Linked DNA regions of Homo sapiens. Changing the gene in region 2 together with the main gene of any one other region gives a genetic interaction. Each region holds a gene or a part of one and is shown on either strand. Other genes may lie near its edges.

What was found. Genes that interact genetically often act in the same process or in processes that back each other up.
Region 1: changes in PSMD4 (region 2) and NDUFB1 together harm fitness more than expected from each alone (negative genetic interaction), as found in Homo sapiens cells (one large-scale study listed by BioGRID).
Region 3: changes in PSMD4 (region 2) and RTF1 together harm fitness less than expected from each alone (positive genetic interaction), as found in Homo sapiens cells (one large-scale study listed by BioGRID).
Region 4: changes in PSMD4 (region 2) and EEF1G together harm fitness less than expected from each alone (positive genetic interaction), as found in Homo sapiens cells (one large-scale study listed by BioGRID).

The regions. Positions count from the first base shown.
Region 1 is NC_000014.9:92,118,907-92,122,965, forward strand, and holds the start of NDUFB1 (NADH dehydrogenase [ubiquinone] 1 beta subcomplex subunit 1), read right to left. Parts: upstream 2,801-4,059; 5' UTR 2,736-2,800; intron 2,494-2,735; exon of another isoform or gene 2,290-2,493; intron 1-2,289. UniProt on the Homo sapiens protein: Accessory subunit of the mitochondrial membrane respiratory chain NADH dehydrogenase (Complex I) that is believed not to be involved in catalysis. Complex I functions in the transfer of electrons from NADH to the respiratory chain.
Region 2 is NC_000001.11:151,263,729-151,268,757, forward strand, and holds the end of PSMD4 (26S proteasome non-ATPase regulatory subunit 4), read left to right. Parts: intron 1-185; coding exon 186-300; intron 301-1,103; coding exon 1,104-1,190; intron 1,191-1,437; coding exon 1,438-1,506; intron 1,507-1,665; coding exon 1,666-1,881; intron 1,882-2,275; coding exon 2,276-2,384; coding exon of another isoform or gene 2,385-2,393; intron 2,394-2,579; coding exon 2,580-2,711; intron 2,712-2,791; coding exon 2,792-2,859; intron 2,860-3,444; coding exon 3,445-3,615; 3' UTR 3,616-3,751; downstream 3,752-5,029. UniProt on the Homo sapiens protein: Component of the 26S proteasome, a multiprotein complex involved in the ATP-dependent degradation of ubiquitinated proteins.
Region 3 is NC_000015.10:41,476,095-41,479,594, forward strand, and holds part of RTF1 (RNA polymerase-associated protein RTF1 homolog), read left to right. Parts: intron 1-351; coding exon 352-429; intron 430-1,070; coding exon 1,071-1,192; intron 1,193-1,363; coding exon 1,364-1,421; intron 1,422-2,453; coding exon 2,454-2,531; intron 2,532-3,008; coding exon 3,009-3,104; intron 3,105-3,332; exon of another isoform or gene 3,333-3,397; intron 3,398-3,500. UniProt on the Homo sapiens protein: Component of the PAF1 complex (PAF1C) which has multiple functions during transcription by RNA polymerase II and is implicated in regulation of development and maintenance of embryonic stem cell pluripotency.
Region 4 is NC_000011.10:62,561,494-62,563,891, forward strand, and holds part of EEF1G (elongation factor 1-gamma), read right to left. Parts: intron 1-2,398. UniProt on the Homo sapiens protein: Probably plays a role in anchoring the complex to other cellular components.

The DNA.
Region 1 (4,059 bases), on a different chromosome or scaffold from region 2:
GAGGTTGCAGTGAGCTGAGATGACGCCACTACACTCCAGCCTGGGGGATACAGCGAGTCTCTGTCTCAGAAAAAAAAGAAAGAAAAAAAAAGGCAAAGGGAGAAGAAAATTTACTTTTATAGAGTGACTACTAGGTGGCTCATGCCTGTAACCACAGCACTTTGGGAGACTAAGGCGGATGGATCGCTTGAGCCTAGGAGCTTGAGACTAGCCTGGTTAACATGGCAAAACCCTGTCTCTACAAAAAATCAAAAAATTAGCTGGGTGTGGTAGTATATGCCTGTAGTCCCAGCTACTTCGGAGGCTGAGGTGGGAGGATTGCTTGAGCCCAAGAGACGGAGGTTGCAATGACCTGAGATCACACCACTGTACTCTAGCCTGGACGACAGAGCGTGATGCTGTCTCAAAAAAAAAAAAAAGACTACTAGGTTACTAGGTACCAGAGCCATCATCTATTTCTATACGTAATGTGAAATAACTATTATTTACATTTTACAGATAAGAAAACAGCTTAATCCAAATAGCTATTAAGTACAGAGCTGGAGTTCAAATTCAGCTTCACTCTACAGCTCTGGCTGCTATTATAGCCCATGCCTAAGAAACCCCTTCCTGAATTGATGTTTATGGTACTTAAAAGCTTTTAAATGCTGAGTTTCCAGAAGGTAGATGAGGAGGAATAGAACTATAGGTTTTTCCTTATCCGAAATGCTTGGGACCCGAAGTGTTTTCGATTTTTTGATTTTGAAATATTTGCATGCACATAATGAGCTATCTTGGGGATAGGACCGAATTAAAACATAAAATTCATTTGTGTTTTATATATACCTTATACACATAGCCTGAAGGTAATCTTATATGAAACTTTTTTTTTTTTTTAAATAGTCTCGCTCTGTCACCTAGGATGGAGTGCAGTGGAGTTATAATAGTCCACTGCAGTCTTGAACTCCTGAGCTCAAGTGATCTTCCCACCTCAATCTTCTGAGAAGCTGGAGCTACGGGTGCTAATTTAAAAAAATTCTTTAAACATTTTTTTTTGTAGAGACAAGATCTTGCTATGTTGCCCAGGCTGGTCTCAAACTTGTGGCCCCAAGTTTCACATATGGGGGCATTTTGGATTTCCAACATTCTGATCAGGGATACTGAACCTGTAATAGACATCATGTGGAAAATAAATTGCACAATTCAATAAAAACATAGTTGGATTGCCAATTTTCTGTAAAAATTCGTGCATACAGATGAATTCAAAATACACCTGTGTGCGTTTGGACTAAACTAATAAATCATGTACAATGACTAAGAAGACATATGACAACATCCTAGAAAGACAATACATTATTGCCAACAAAAGTGCTTAGCACTAAGCTGTGCTAGGACTATGTAGACTGAATTTCTGCCTCTCCTCTTACACTGGCATGCTTATACAATTCATACTTTTTTCTTTCCTTTTTTTTTTTTTATTTTGAGACGAAGTTTCGCTCTTGTTGCCTAGGCCGGAGTGCAATGGCGCAATCTTGGCTCACAGCAACCTCTGCCTCTCGGATTCAAGGGATTCTCCTACCTCAGCCTCCCAAGTAGCTGGGATTACAGGTATGCGCCACCATGCCCAGCTAATTTTGTATTTTTGGTAGAGACGAGGTTTCTCCATGTTGGTCAGGCTGGTCTTGAATTCCCAACCTCAGGTGGTCCGCCCGCCTAGGCCTCCCAAAGTGCTGGGATTACAGGCGTGAGCCACCGCGCCCGGCCGTTCAAGTGATTTTCTTGCCTCAGCCTTCCGAGTAGCTGGGACTATAGGCAGGTGCCACCACGCCCGGCTAATTTTTGTATTTTTAAGTAGAGATGGGGTTTCACTGTTGGCCGGGCTGGTCTCAAACTCCTGACCTCTTGATCCGGCCACCTCGGCCTTCCAAAGTGTTGGGATTACAGGCGTGAGCCACTAAGCCTGGCCATACTTTTGTCTTTTAAAAGGCAAGGTGGGCCAGGTGCAGTGGCTCACGCCTGTAATCCCAGCACTTTGGGATGCTGAGGCGGGTGGATCACGAGATCAGGAGTTCGAGACCAGCCTGGCCAACATAGTGAAACCCTCGTCTCTACTAAATATACAAAAAATTAGCCGGGTGTGGTGGCGGGCGCCTGTAATCCCAGCTACTTGGGCTGCTGAGACGGGAGAATCGCTTGAACCCGGGAGGCGGAGGTTGGAGTGAGCCGAGATTGCACCATTGCACTCCAGCCTGGGTGACAAGAGTGAATCTCTGTCTCAAAAATAAAAAAGCAAAGTAAAAGGGTAAGCACATCATTTAGGCGCAACGGTGTCGGCTCAAGAGGATTTGCGATTTGGAAGAGAGCGAGGTTAGCGAGAAGACAGAAGGCTGGAACTTGGACGAATGTAAGCTGCTCGCGGAGGGGAGGCAGCGTCTTCCCTGCTTCAGGCCAGGCGTGGGATCCGGGCCGGTCTTCTCTCCAGTCCGGTTAGCGGGCGGTCACTGGGTCACATCTCTACGGACGTTTTCCTGTTATGACAGCCTCAGAAAACCCTTTCCAAAAGCTCCGGCCCGGAAATCCCATCCTCCACCCGAAGAAAACCCCATTTTCCTTTCCCGTCACCTTCGTTCGGAAGCCCCGGGGAAGCCCAGACCACCCCTCCACACATGCACAGCACCGAGGGCTTGCCTAGAACCCTCCCCGCCACCGTCGCCGTGATCCTCGTCGCGGCGGCCCCCCGGGCTCCCCAAACCCACCTGCAGCCTCAGCGCCTACAGCGACCCCGAGACCAAGGGCAACAGGGAACTCAACCCGCGCCAGTGGAAGCTGCGACCTCGGGACCTGCCATTCGCCGCGCCCGCACGGAGCAGAGGGGTGACGCCAGCAAATCATACTACTTTTTCCTCCTCAGGGTTGACTCCTCTCATTTTTTTTTTTTTTAGCTTCCAAACATTACCAATAATTTCTGAATAAAATTTCGCTCCAGACAGACGAGGCGTGCAGGCGTGACCGCCGTCGCCTTCCGACAGCACCGTGCCCACCCCCCGGAGATGGTCTCGCCCTGGTTCCTCCTCGTCTCCGCCGCTAGTCTCCAGCTCCAAAATGGCGGCTGCCACTGTGGGGCTTCTGCCGGCCGGTAGTCCCTGGCGCTGCTGACCCAGCATCGGCTTTTCTACGTCTTGAACCTGGATTCGCCTAGGGGTTGGGAAGGGCTGTGGACGGCGTTGGGGGAGGCCTGACGAGGCAAGTGAGGGCGGGAGAAAGGAGCGAGCCTCGGGCTGGGGAAGGCGGCGTCATTGGCCCTCCGGGAGCACGGGGCCCCGACTCCGACCCGGTCTCCCCCGAGGACTCGCCCCCGCCGCTTCGGCTGCGACTGTCCCGGTCGTTCCCGGCAGAAGTGGTCAGCGAGGGAAAGAGAAGTGACTTCTCCATGGGTTTCAAGCTCCCAGCTGTTTTGCGGCAGCCCGTACGGTTCCCTCCCGGGATCTTCTTCCCTCCTTTCTGCTTCCCTCTGCTTCCCCTTTCATCTCTTGGCGCTGGAAGAGTTAAACCGACGCCAGCTTTAGCTCCTTGGCTTCGTGGCTACGGCGTTCTTAGCCTCCCCTGCTCGGGCTCTTCCCGTCGTTTTGGGTTGAGAGACCACGAGGTTGCTAAGCTCTGGACACCGCTTAGGCGTCCTTTTAGTTCTTCGACTCCAGAGACCTTTCGGTTGTTTGTACCACACTGTACTAAAAGGGTCTTGGGCCTTCGCGCCCTCCCGCCATCGCCCTCCAGCGCTTCCACTATCACTGCGAAGTTCTAATTCTTTTTTGACTTCGTACTATTTTACGTGCTCTTTAGAAAAGAAGAGGTCAGATTGAACCCCGGCAAGTCTGGCTTCCTGTGACCAGGCGAACCTGAGCTATCATTTATACCCATCCCCTAATTTTTAATTTTACAACCCCTTTAACCCCTTTCTTTTTTCTTTCTTTTTTTTTTTTTTTAATAAAGACGGGGTTTCACTATGTTGCCCAGGCCGGTGTCGAACTCCTGGGCTCAAGAGATCCTCCCATTTTGGCCTGTGCTGGGATTCCAGGCGTG
Region 2 (5,029 bases):
TCTGAGGCAGGAGAATGGCGTGAACCCGGGAGGCGGAGCTTGCAGTGACCCGAGATCACGCCACGCACTCCAGCCTGGGTGACAGAGTGAGACTCCGTCTAAAAAATAAATAAATAAAAGTTAGACACAGTTTAGAGGTACTTGTGCTGACCTGAATTCACTGAAATGCTTTTCCTACATCCCAGTGACTGTGAAGTGCTGACCACACTCACCCCAGACACTGGCCGTATCCTGTCCAAGCTACATACTGTCCAACCCAAGGGCAAGATCACCTTCTGCACGGGCATCCGCGTGGCCCATGTGAGTCCTACTGGGTTCCCTGGACCTTTCCTCCCTGCTCTGAGGTCCTGCCTCCATCATACTCATTTCTCCCCTGGAATCCTGAGCTAGGACCAGAGCAAGAGAAAGCTAACTTGGAGTAGAAAGGATATGGGGGATGAATCCCAGGGTAGTTGAGGGTTGTGAAGGGAAAAATCCCTAGAATTGAGAATTAAGGCTGGGCGTGGTAGTTCATGCCTGTAATCCCATCACTTTGGGAGGCCAGGGGAGGAGGATTGCTGAAGGCTAGCAGTTCAAGACCAGCCTGGGCACATAGGGAGACCCTGTTTCTCTAAAAAAAAAAAAAAAAAGGCCGGGCGCGGTGGCTCACACCTGTAATCCCAGCACTTTGGGAGGCTAACACGGGCAGATCACCTGACGTCACGAGTTCGAGACCAATCTGGCCAACGTGGTGAAACCCCATCTCTACTGAAAATATAAAAATTAGCCAGTACTAGGAAGGCTGAGGCAGGATAATCGCTGGAACCCGGGAGGTGGAGGTTGCAGTGAACTGAGATCACGCCACTGCACTCCAGACTGGGCGACAGAGCGAGACTCCATCTCAAAAAAAAAAAAAGAGAGAAAGAGAATTAACCTCCCTTCTTTATGCACAGAGAGTCATAGCAAAAAGGGAGGAGGTGGGGGTGTTAAATCTTGTGTGAACGTGATGGTAGATGGTGTACTTCAGGTACAAAGAAACTGTAAGAAAAAGGGAACCGAGTGACAGAGGAAAGAGCTGAGTGATTCCTCTGGTTAACTCTGAGAACTTCCTCTCCCTTTACAAGCTGGCTCTGAAGCACCGACAAGGCAAGAATCACAAGATGCGCATCATTGCCTTTGTGGGAAGCCCAGTGGAGGACAATGAGAAGGATGTGAGTCCAAGTGGCAGCTGGGGAATGTGGGGAGCCCATGTTTGGGACTGAGGTCTTCCAGCCCTCAGGAGAACCTGGCAGAGGCATCAGGCTCATCACTTTGGGGAAAGGTGAATGTGGAGAATTCAGTGATTCTGTTGGAGGACCTTGGGGAGGTCAATAGATTTCTGTATGCTTTTATGCGGCGGGTCCTTTCCCCCCCTCGAGTATGGAACAGATTTCTTGATTTTTCTCCCCTTCTTCCCAGCTGGTGAAACTGGCTAAACGCCTCAAGAAGGAGAAAGTAAATGTTGACATTATCAATTTTGGGGAAGAGGTGAGTAGGGACTGATTGGAGGGCATTGACTTAATTTGGTCATAAACAGAATGGTCCTTAACCCTGAGGAGTGCGGGTACTGTGGCAGAGTAGTGCAGAAATGGGAAAGAACAGGGAGCAAGGCCTGAAGAAGGGCATCATGTGTTCTTTCCTCCCCAGGAGGTGAACACAGAAAAGCTGACAGCCTTTGTAAACACGTTGAATGGCAAAGATGGAACCGGTTCTCATCTGGTGACAGTGCCTCCTGGGCCCAGTTTGGCTGATGCTCTCATCAGTTCTCCGATTTTGGCTGGTGAAGGTGGTGCCATGCTGGGTCTTGGTGCCAGTGACTTTGAATTTGGAGTAGATCCCAGTGCTGATCCTGAGCTGGCCTTGGTGAGCAAATGTTGACCCCAGGTAGAGTCCAAAGGTCCCTCTTTGTTCTCTTCTGGCACACACATCACAGAGCTTCTATCAGGCTGGATAGTCCTAGACACTACCAATCACTCATTTTCCAAGACCTCCTTTTGCCGCCTCTTCCCTATAATGCTGTCTGATCTCTAGGGGCACCAGTGTCAGATGCTTTCTTGTTCACTTCTGATGAAAACCGAGGCTTCTCCCAAGTCCTTACTTTTTAATCCCGTACCACTGCTTATCCCTCCAGCTTCTTCTCTGTGTGATAAACCAGAAGCTGCCCCTTTATGTTCCTTTCCCACACCCCAACTGACTTTCCCAGCTCCCTGTAGGAGTGAGGGCAGGGGAGCCCTGATTATGCCCTGCCCTTCACCAGGCCCTTCGTGTATCTATGGAAGAGCAGCGGCAGCGGCAGGAGGAGGAGGCCCGGCGGGCAGCTGCAGCTTCTGCTGCTGAGGCCGGGATTGCTACGACTGGGACTGAAGGTGAAAGAGGTGGAATCCGAAGTCCTGGGACTGCGGGATGCTAAACATTGAAAGCTGGGTGTAGGCACTGCAGGGAGAGTGTGGAGGTCTGACAGGGTAGGAATATGTGGGAGGGCTGGGCTAGGAATGGCCTTGGAGGCTGGCCTGTGTGGATATGGCACCAATTCTACCCTGCTCCTCTTTTCCTTTTCCCAGACTCAGACGATGCCCTGCTGAAGATGACCATCAGCCAGCAAGAGTTTGGCCGCACTGGGCTTCCTGACCTAAGCAGTATGACTGAGGAAGAGCAGATTGCTTATGCCATGCAGATGTCCCTGCAGGGAGCAGGTGAGCCAGAGCCTGGGTGGTGCCTAGGCAGAGGTTGGGGTGAGGAAGTGTAACTGAACAGACTGACCTCTCTTCCTCAGAGTTTGGCCAGGCGGAATCAGCAGACATTGATGCCAGCTCAGCTATGGACACATCTGAGCCAGCCAAGGTGAGACCCAACCCTGCCCCCATCAGGTTTAAAGTCCTTGAATTTAGATCCTCATCCCTCTGGGGCTGGGAGTATTTCTACCATAGCTAAGTCCTTTGAGGAGCAGAGGGAAACACATGGATTTGCATTTCTTACATGTAAACCTTGCTAAGGTAGCAATGCTAATGGTCAGAGTTGGAGAAATGTCCTCTTGTTCTGTAATTTTCCTTTCTTGCTGGTGGGAGCAGCCTGGGCAGTTCTCTAGGATGTCTTCCCAGGAGGGAAAAAAGCGGGTCTGGGAAAAAGAAAAAGGAGAACTGGGTGTCTTGAGAGCAGGAAACCTCAATGTGATGGCATCTGTTTTTCTCCTCAGAGCTCAATTAACAGAGTTCTCAGCAGGCCCCTCTATTTGGTTAGTAATAACTGCATTCATGCTGTATAAAGGATTTTGCTGACTTGTCCTTTCCTTACGTCGACCAGAGGTGCCCAGATCCCCACACAGTCAGAAGGCAGGGGGCCTCTGGCAGCGGCATGCTCCTGTCCTTAACACCTGCTTACTTCCTGCCGCTCCATACCCTCCCTTGAGCTCACACTGCCTGTTTGCAGGAGGAGGATGATTACGACGTGATGCAGGACCCCGAGTTCCTTCAGAGTGTCCTAGAGAACCTCCCAGGTGTGGATCCCAACAATGAAGCCATTCGAAATGCTATGGGCTCCCTGGCCTCCCAGGCCACCAAGGACGGCAAGAAGGACAAGAAGGAGGAAGACAAGAAGTGAGACTGGAGGGAAAGGGTAGCTGAGTCTGCTTAGGGGACTGCATGGGAAGCACGGAATATAGGGTTAGATGTGTGTTATCTGTAACCATTACAGCCTAAATAAAGCTTGGCAACTTTTTTTCCTTTTTTGCTTCAAATATTGATGGTTTTGAGTGTGAGAGAGGGGAGGAGTCCCTGGCCTGAAGGAGAACCTTCCTTGTTGAGTTCTCTATGTCTCTGTTTCCACCTGTCTGGGCCTCCTAACGTGCTGGGATTACAGGCCCAGGAGCCAGGTTTCCATTTCTAATGAACGAAGACCTTATTTAAACCACCTTCTTGCCAATAACTTTTACTCTGCACTCACACAGCTGAACCCCAAGCATGGAATGATACTCAACCTTTTCAGTTTTTTCATGTGGACTTCTGAGGTTCAGCAAGTTTAGGTTATTTGGCCAAGGATATTTAGCTAATGAAGAGGCAGAACCAGGATCAAAATCCAAACTTGTCTCAGACCTGTCTCGCCAGGAGTTGAATCACCACCAAACAGTAGTTTCCCATTGGTCAGCTGCCTTCAGTGACTCTGCTCAGCCCTGCAAGTCAGTTCCTTGTAGCAACTACTATACCTTCCTCTACTCCCCGATCACTCTCAACAGAAGCCTGACATCTTTACAGAGAGTCAAGGCCGTGAGGCAGGAAGTTCTGGCTCCCTCCCTCCTGCCAGCACCTCCCTGCATCAGTTATGCTGTCTCCTGAGTCTCTGCTGTCCTAAACACCCTGCTGGCGTTTTCCTCTCAGTGTACATGCATAAAATCCACTCTACAAGTAACCTTACCTTGAGACTTTATATTATACGGTTTAAATATTATTTTACAAGGAACATCTATTCCCTTTATAATTTTTTTTAAAGTTTTTTTTTTTTTCAGCCAGGTGCGGTGGCTCACACCTGTAATCCCAGCACTTTGGGAGGCCGAGGTGGGCAGATCACAAGGTCAGGAGTTTGAGACCAGCCTGACCAATATGGTGAAACCCCGTCTCTACTAAAAATAGAAAAAAAATTAGCCGGGTGTGGTGGCACACGCCTGTAATTCCAGCTACTCAGGAGGCTGAGGCAGGAGAATTGCTTGAACCCAGGAGGCGGAGGTTGCAGTGAGCTGAGATCATGCCACTGCATTCCAGCCTGGGCGACAGAGGGAGACTCTCAAAAAATAAAAAATTAAAAAATATATATATATATTTTTATTTATTTTAAACAAAGTCTGTGCTCTGTCACCCAGGCTGGGGTGCAGTGGTGTGATCATAGCTCACTGTAGCCTCAACCTCCTAGCCTAAAGGATCCTCCTGCCTCAGCCTCCTGCATAGCTGGGACTAAGGCACACACTACCACGCCCAGCTAATTTTTTTTTTTTTTTTTTGAGATGGAGTCTGTCGCACAGGCT
Region 3 (3,500 bases), on a different chromosome or scaffold from region 2:
TGTATTCTGCTAGGCTTGATCCTTCAAGAGTTTTCCTTTTCTAAAACATCTTGGTAAAATTATTTGATCTCTGTTCTCTTGGACAGTGGCTAGCCTTACACTACCAGGCCCTTGGGCTGCTGTTTCTTGGTGCATGTTCCTTCAGCCTGTCCCAGAAGAATCTCCGTGACCCAGGAAGCAGCATAGTATCCCTTGGAATGAACCCGCTCTCTCTCTCTCTGGGGCATGACACTGCTGTAGGAAGAGCAGCCCCTTTGTAACTAGCTGTTTGCATCCAAAATGGGCTCACTTAGCCTGTCTACAAAAATAGCTTAGGAATACCTCACTGCTGGTATCTCCTCTCTGGTACAGATTGTAAAAGAGAAAGAAAGGTTCAGAAAAGCTCCACCCAACTACGCTATGAAGAAGACTCAGCTACTGAAGGAAAAGGTAAGGAGTTGTACTCGAGCCTCTTTCCTCATCCTGTAAGGAGATGTGGAAATCAAACTTGTTCATCCTCTGCCAAGTTAGTGGTGGTAGGATTGGGAGAAAATTCTGGGCTCGATTATAAGCAACACAGTGTGTTCTTGGCACCTGGGCAACGTTCCTTGGCCATTTTCCATTCCCTAAATTCAAACTCATCTTCTGCGTGTGTGCCAGTCTTCTTACTTTCTAGTCACTTCAGTTTCCTTTGTAATAAAATAGACCCTGGGGTGGTATTTAACACTGAGTCTGAACAGACAGATGACACTGTCAAGGCCACCTGTGGCTGGTGATTTTCCATTCTTCACACTGGGTTGGGGTGGGCCTTGTTATGGTGGTTTAGCCACCCTGTGAGGCCTGGGGTTCTACTGCCACCAGGGACCCACAGCCAGGTAGCTGTATGGGAAGGTGTTCCCCACTGTACTGTGCACTACTATAATATAAATTATATCTTGTATTTGTAAAGTACTTCTACAGTATTCTTCCACATCTCCTGTCCTTTGCTCACCACATGAGATATCTTTGCCTGTGCTGGAAGTAAGGGGATACTTGATATGGAGTCAGTTGTATGTAGCCAAGAACGAACTCACACATCTCTCTATGTGTAGGCCATGGCTGAGGACCTGGGGGATCAGGACAAGGCCAAACAAATCCAAGATCAACTGAATGAGCTGGAGGAACGGGCAGAGGCCCTGGACCGCCAGCGGACCAAGAACATATCCGCTATCAGGTGTGTTATGGAGCCTATTTTTGGCCCGCAGACCTTGGCCAAAATTATCAGGCAAGCCTGTGGCCTGTACACTCTGTGCTGCACTGACCCCATAGATATCTGAGTTCAGGGCTCAGTGGTTCCCTCCCTCCCTTGTTTCACAGCCACTGACTCATCCCTCTTACCCCACAGTTACATCAACCAGCGGAACCGGGAGTGGAACATTGTAGAGTCTGAGAAGGCCCTTGTGGTAAGAAAACTTTATCTGAATCACTAAAACAAAGTTAATTAATAAACCATGACATCTTTTCTACATCTTGCCTAAGTTTATTTTTTAATTATTGAAATAACGTAGGCACTTAACGTATACACACTCTCTCTGTATGTCCACGTACATCGATATAATTTATTCATAATGAAAAGCAGCAGTCTTCTGCCCTGTCCTACCTCTTCCCACCCTTAGATTCTACTCCACAGGTATTTGTTTTTTCTCAATTTCTGTTTCTTGGTTGTTTCCCCCATATCTACTCTGGTATTCTTGAAGGGAAAAGGATAATATGCCGGGCGCGGTGTCTCACGCCTGTAATCCCAGCACTTTGGGAGGCCGAGGCGGGTGGATCACCTGGGGTCAGGAGTTTGAAACCAGCCTGGCCAGCATGACAAAACCCTGTCTCTCCTAAAAATACAAAAATGAGCCGGACATGGTGGTGCACGCCTGTAATCCCAGCTACTTGGGAGGCTGAGGCACGAGAATCACTTGAACCTGGGATGTGGAGATTGCAGTGAGCTGTCGTGCCACTGCACTTTAGCCTGGGCAAGAGAGCGAGAATCCATTTAAAAAATAAAAAAAATTAGCCGGGCATGGTGGCTCACGCCTGTAATCCCAGCACTTTGGGAGGCTGAGGTGGGTGGATCACCTGAGGTCAGGAGTTTGAGAGCAGCCTGGCCAACATGGCGAAACCCTGTCTCTACTAAAAATACAAAAATTAGCTGGGTTTGGTGGCTTGCACCTATAGTCCCAGCTGCTGGAGAGGCTGAGGCAGGAGAATCACTTGAACCTGAGAGGCAGCAGATGCAATGAGCTGAGATTGCGTCACTGCACTTCAGCCTAGGCGACAGGGCGAGACTCCATCTCAAAAAAAATTAAAAAAAAAAAAAAAGGAAAAGGATAATAGCTTTTTTTTTTTTCAGTCCCGTGCAAAGACTTATTTGCCTGTGAGCTTATGGTGAATGAGAGGAGGGGCTGGAGGTGCAGTTCTGTGGTGCATGCTTTCTGTTTCAGGCTGAAAGTCACAACATGAAAAACCAACAGATGGATCCCTTTACTCGGCGGCAGTGCAAGCCTACCATCGTTTCTAATGTGAGTGCTGAAAGAGGACATTTTAGTCAGGACCTAGATTCTAGGACACAAAATGAATTCCATTAGGAAATTAATAATGAAGTTAAAAATAATGTTTTCTTAGCTGGGATTTGCTTGTCTGAAGCTCTTGGGTCTGGATACTTCCTTTTTTATCTTGCTATAGGACATATCGGTAGTGAAAACGTGGCATGGATTTATAAAAACCTAGTGACTGATCCTCCTGTATCAGGGTGGGTTTACAGTGCAGCAGACATTAGTAATGTGTCCCTTAGCTAGGGCCTGGCTGGGCTGGGCTTGGCTTTCAAGCTTGTAATTGCCTTTTTTTTTTTTTTTTTTGCTGCTTTGAGGAAAACCCCACTAGCTGCTGATGGGTCGGCTGTGGTGCTTGTGATGTTAGTTTGGTAGGTGGGAAAGAATCTGGCAGTAGGACTCTGTGAGTGTCAAGCAATCTCTAAAACAACTTATTTTCTCTCTCAGTCCAGAGACCCAGCTGTTCAAGCTGCCATCTTGGCCCAGCTGAATGCAAAATACGGTTCTGGAGTGTTACCAGATGCTCCAAAGGAAATGAGCAAGGCAAGTGTGGTACCACCCTGTTGCCTGCTGAGTGAGGCTGCTGGCTGAGATACCGAACAAGTACCTTGTCTAGTTTGGGCTTGATTTTTCCACCTTGAGGAACAGGGAGTCCCTCTTGGAGTCCCTTCTCCATCCCAGTTATTTACAGATATAATCAACAGACAACCTTAATTCCAAACCTGACACCACTACTTGCCTAGGGCCTTGACTATGTCCTTCAGCAGCTGGCTTCCAGCCCTCAGCATCCCCTTTTCTGCTGTGTAAAATGAGGGTACTACTGTATACCCTGCCAGCTTCACAGGAGGAGAGATAACATACAAAGATCAGACATTGTAAAAGTGAAAGCTTGTTGAAAATGGCACATTTAAAAGCAGTTTTCTTGCTGGGCGCAGTGGC
Region 4 (2,398 bases), on a different chromosome or scaffold from region 2:
GAAAACCTATCTCTACTAAAAAAAAAAAAAAAAAAAATTGGTGGCACACGCCTGTAGTCCCAGCTACTCGGGAGGCAGGGACAGGAGACTTGCTCGAACCCAGGAGACAGAGGCTGCAGTGAGCCGAAATTGCACTCCAGCCTGGCAACAGAGCAAGACTCCGTCTCAAAAAAAAAACAAAAAAAAAACAAAAAAAAAAAAAACAACCAAAAAACACATATATGTGTGTGTGCATACATGTGTTAAATGCCTAACCTTGTTTTTACTCTAACTCACTACTTTGAATCTTCCCTGTTTGTCTCTTTAACCACCTAGCCTTGCTTCTCATGTAAATAAGACTCTCTCTCTAGCTGGGAAAGCCGGACAAACTCCAATTGACCCTTTAATTTACAAGACACTAAGGGCTCCTCACCCAACCCCCTTCCACAAGGAGTTGACCTGTGTTAAGCAGATCCTCAGCATTTCAAAGGAGCCCAATTAACTGATAAGGTACTGGCACAAACAATGTATGAAGTTCCCAGGATTTTTCTCAAAGTGATAACAACATAAAGCCTTGAGTTGTGTCCCGCATAGCCCCATATCTAATTATAATGAAGGATTTAGAGCCCTGCACCTGGTACGGTTGCTTTTTGTAACCATTTGTCTTTTAAATTGTTTATCTCTCTGTAACCATTTTGCTTCTTTTGATTCTTGCATGTTTTTACCTCTGTAAAATTATTGCATTTGAGTTCCCCTCCCCTTCCTAAACCAAGGTATAAAAGTTAGTCAAGCCCCTTCCTCAGGGCCGAGAGATTTTTGAGCGTTAGCCGTCTCTTGGTTGCCGGCTAATAAAGGACTCTTAATTCGTCTCAAAGTGTGGCGTTTTCTCTAACTCGCTCAGGTACAACATGTGTGTGTATATATGTGTGTGTGTGCATATACATACACATATATATATATATGCTGACTGAAGAAAATCACCTATAATGCCAACAAGAGGATAATCTTTTTTTTGTTTTGTTTTTTTGAGATGGAGTCTCGCCCTGTCACCCAGGCTGGAATGCAGTGGTGCGATCTCGGCTCACTGCAACCTCTACCTACCGGGTTCAAGCGATTCTCCTGCCTCAGCCTCCCAAGTAGTGGGATTACAGGCACGTGCCACTACGCCCAGCTAATTTTTGTATTTCTAGTAGAGACGAGGTTTCACTATGTTGGTCAGGCTGGTCTTGAACTCTTGACCTCGTGATCCGCCCGCCTCGGCCTCCCAAAGTGCTGGGATTACAGGCATGAGCCACCGTGCCCAGCCCAGGATAATCTTTTATGTATTTTCCTACAGCCTTTGATTTTTCAAAGATGTAGCCATGACATATGCAGTTTTGTGCTTATACTTTGTTGTTACTGGACATCCTATCCATGCTGTTAAGAATTCTTTCAGCCTGGGAAATATAGCGAGACACTGTCTCTACAAAAAAATTTAAAAATTAGCTGGGAGCTGGGCACCATGGCTCACGCCTGTAATCCCAGCTACTCAGAAGGCTGAGGCAAGAGAATTGCTTGAGTCCGGGAGGCAGAGGTTGCAGTGAGCCGAGATCACACCACTGCACTCCAGCCTGGGAGAAGAGCAAGACCCTGTCAAAAAAACAAAACAATCCTTTTTTTTTTATTTTTCCTTGAGACGGAGTCTAGCTCTGTTGCCCAGGCTGCAGTGCAGTGGTGCAATCTCGGCTCACTGCAAGCTCCGCCTCCTGGGTTCACGCCATTCTCCTGCCTCAGCCTCCTGAGTAGCTGGGACTACAGGCGCCTGCTACCGCCCCCGGCTAATTTTTTGTACTTTTTGTATTTTTAGTAGAGACGGTATTTTTACCGTGTTAGCCAGGATGGTTTCAATCTCCTGACCTCGTGATCCACCCGCCTCAGCCTCCCAAAGTGCTGGGATCACAGGCGTGAGCCACCGCGCCCAGCCTAAAACAAAACAATTTTTTGCACTAGCAGTCCCAGCTACTCAAGAGGCTGAGGTAGAAGGACCACCTGAGATCAGGAGTTGGACACCGGACTAAGCAACATAGCAAGACCCTACCTCAAAAACAGAATTCTTTGCAAACATTTTAATGGCCAAACAATCTTCTAATGCAGGATTGTGCCATAAATCTACTAAACATTGAATATTAAACTGAATGTTTAGTTGGTTCTATTGTTCATAGCATAAATATTGCCATGAGTATTCCAATTTCACTCAATCCTTATAACCCATGAGTTATCAACTGTTACCCTGACCCTCCCCTCTCTTTACAGATGAGACCAAGTAGAATGACCTGTCCAAGATTACACTGTAGCAAAGCAGAGGATCTGTCCTTTAACCCTAGGTCCCAGGTTCCTTTCCAAATGCATAAGAGACCTCATCTGAGGAGCCTTAAAACCT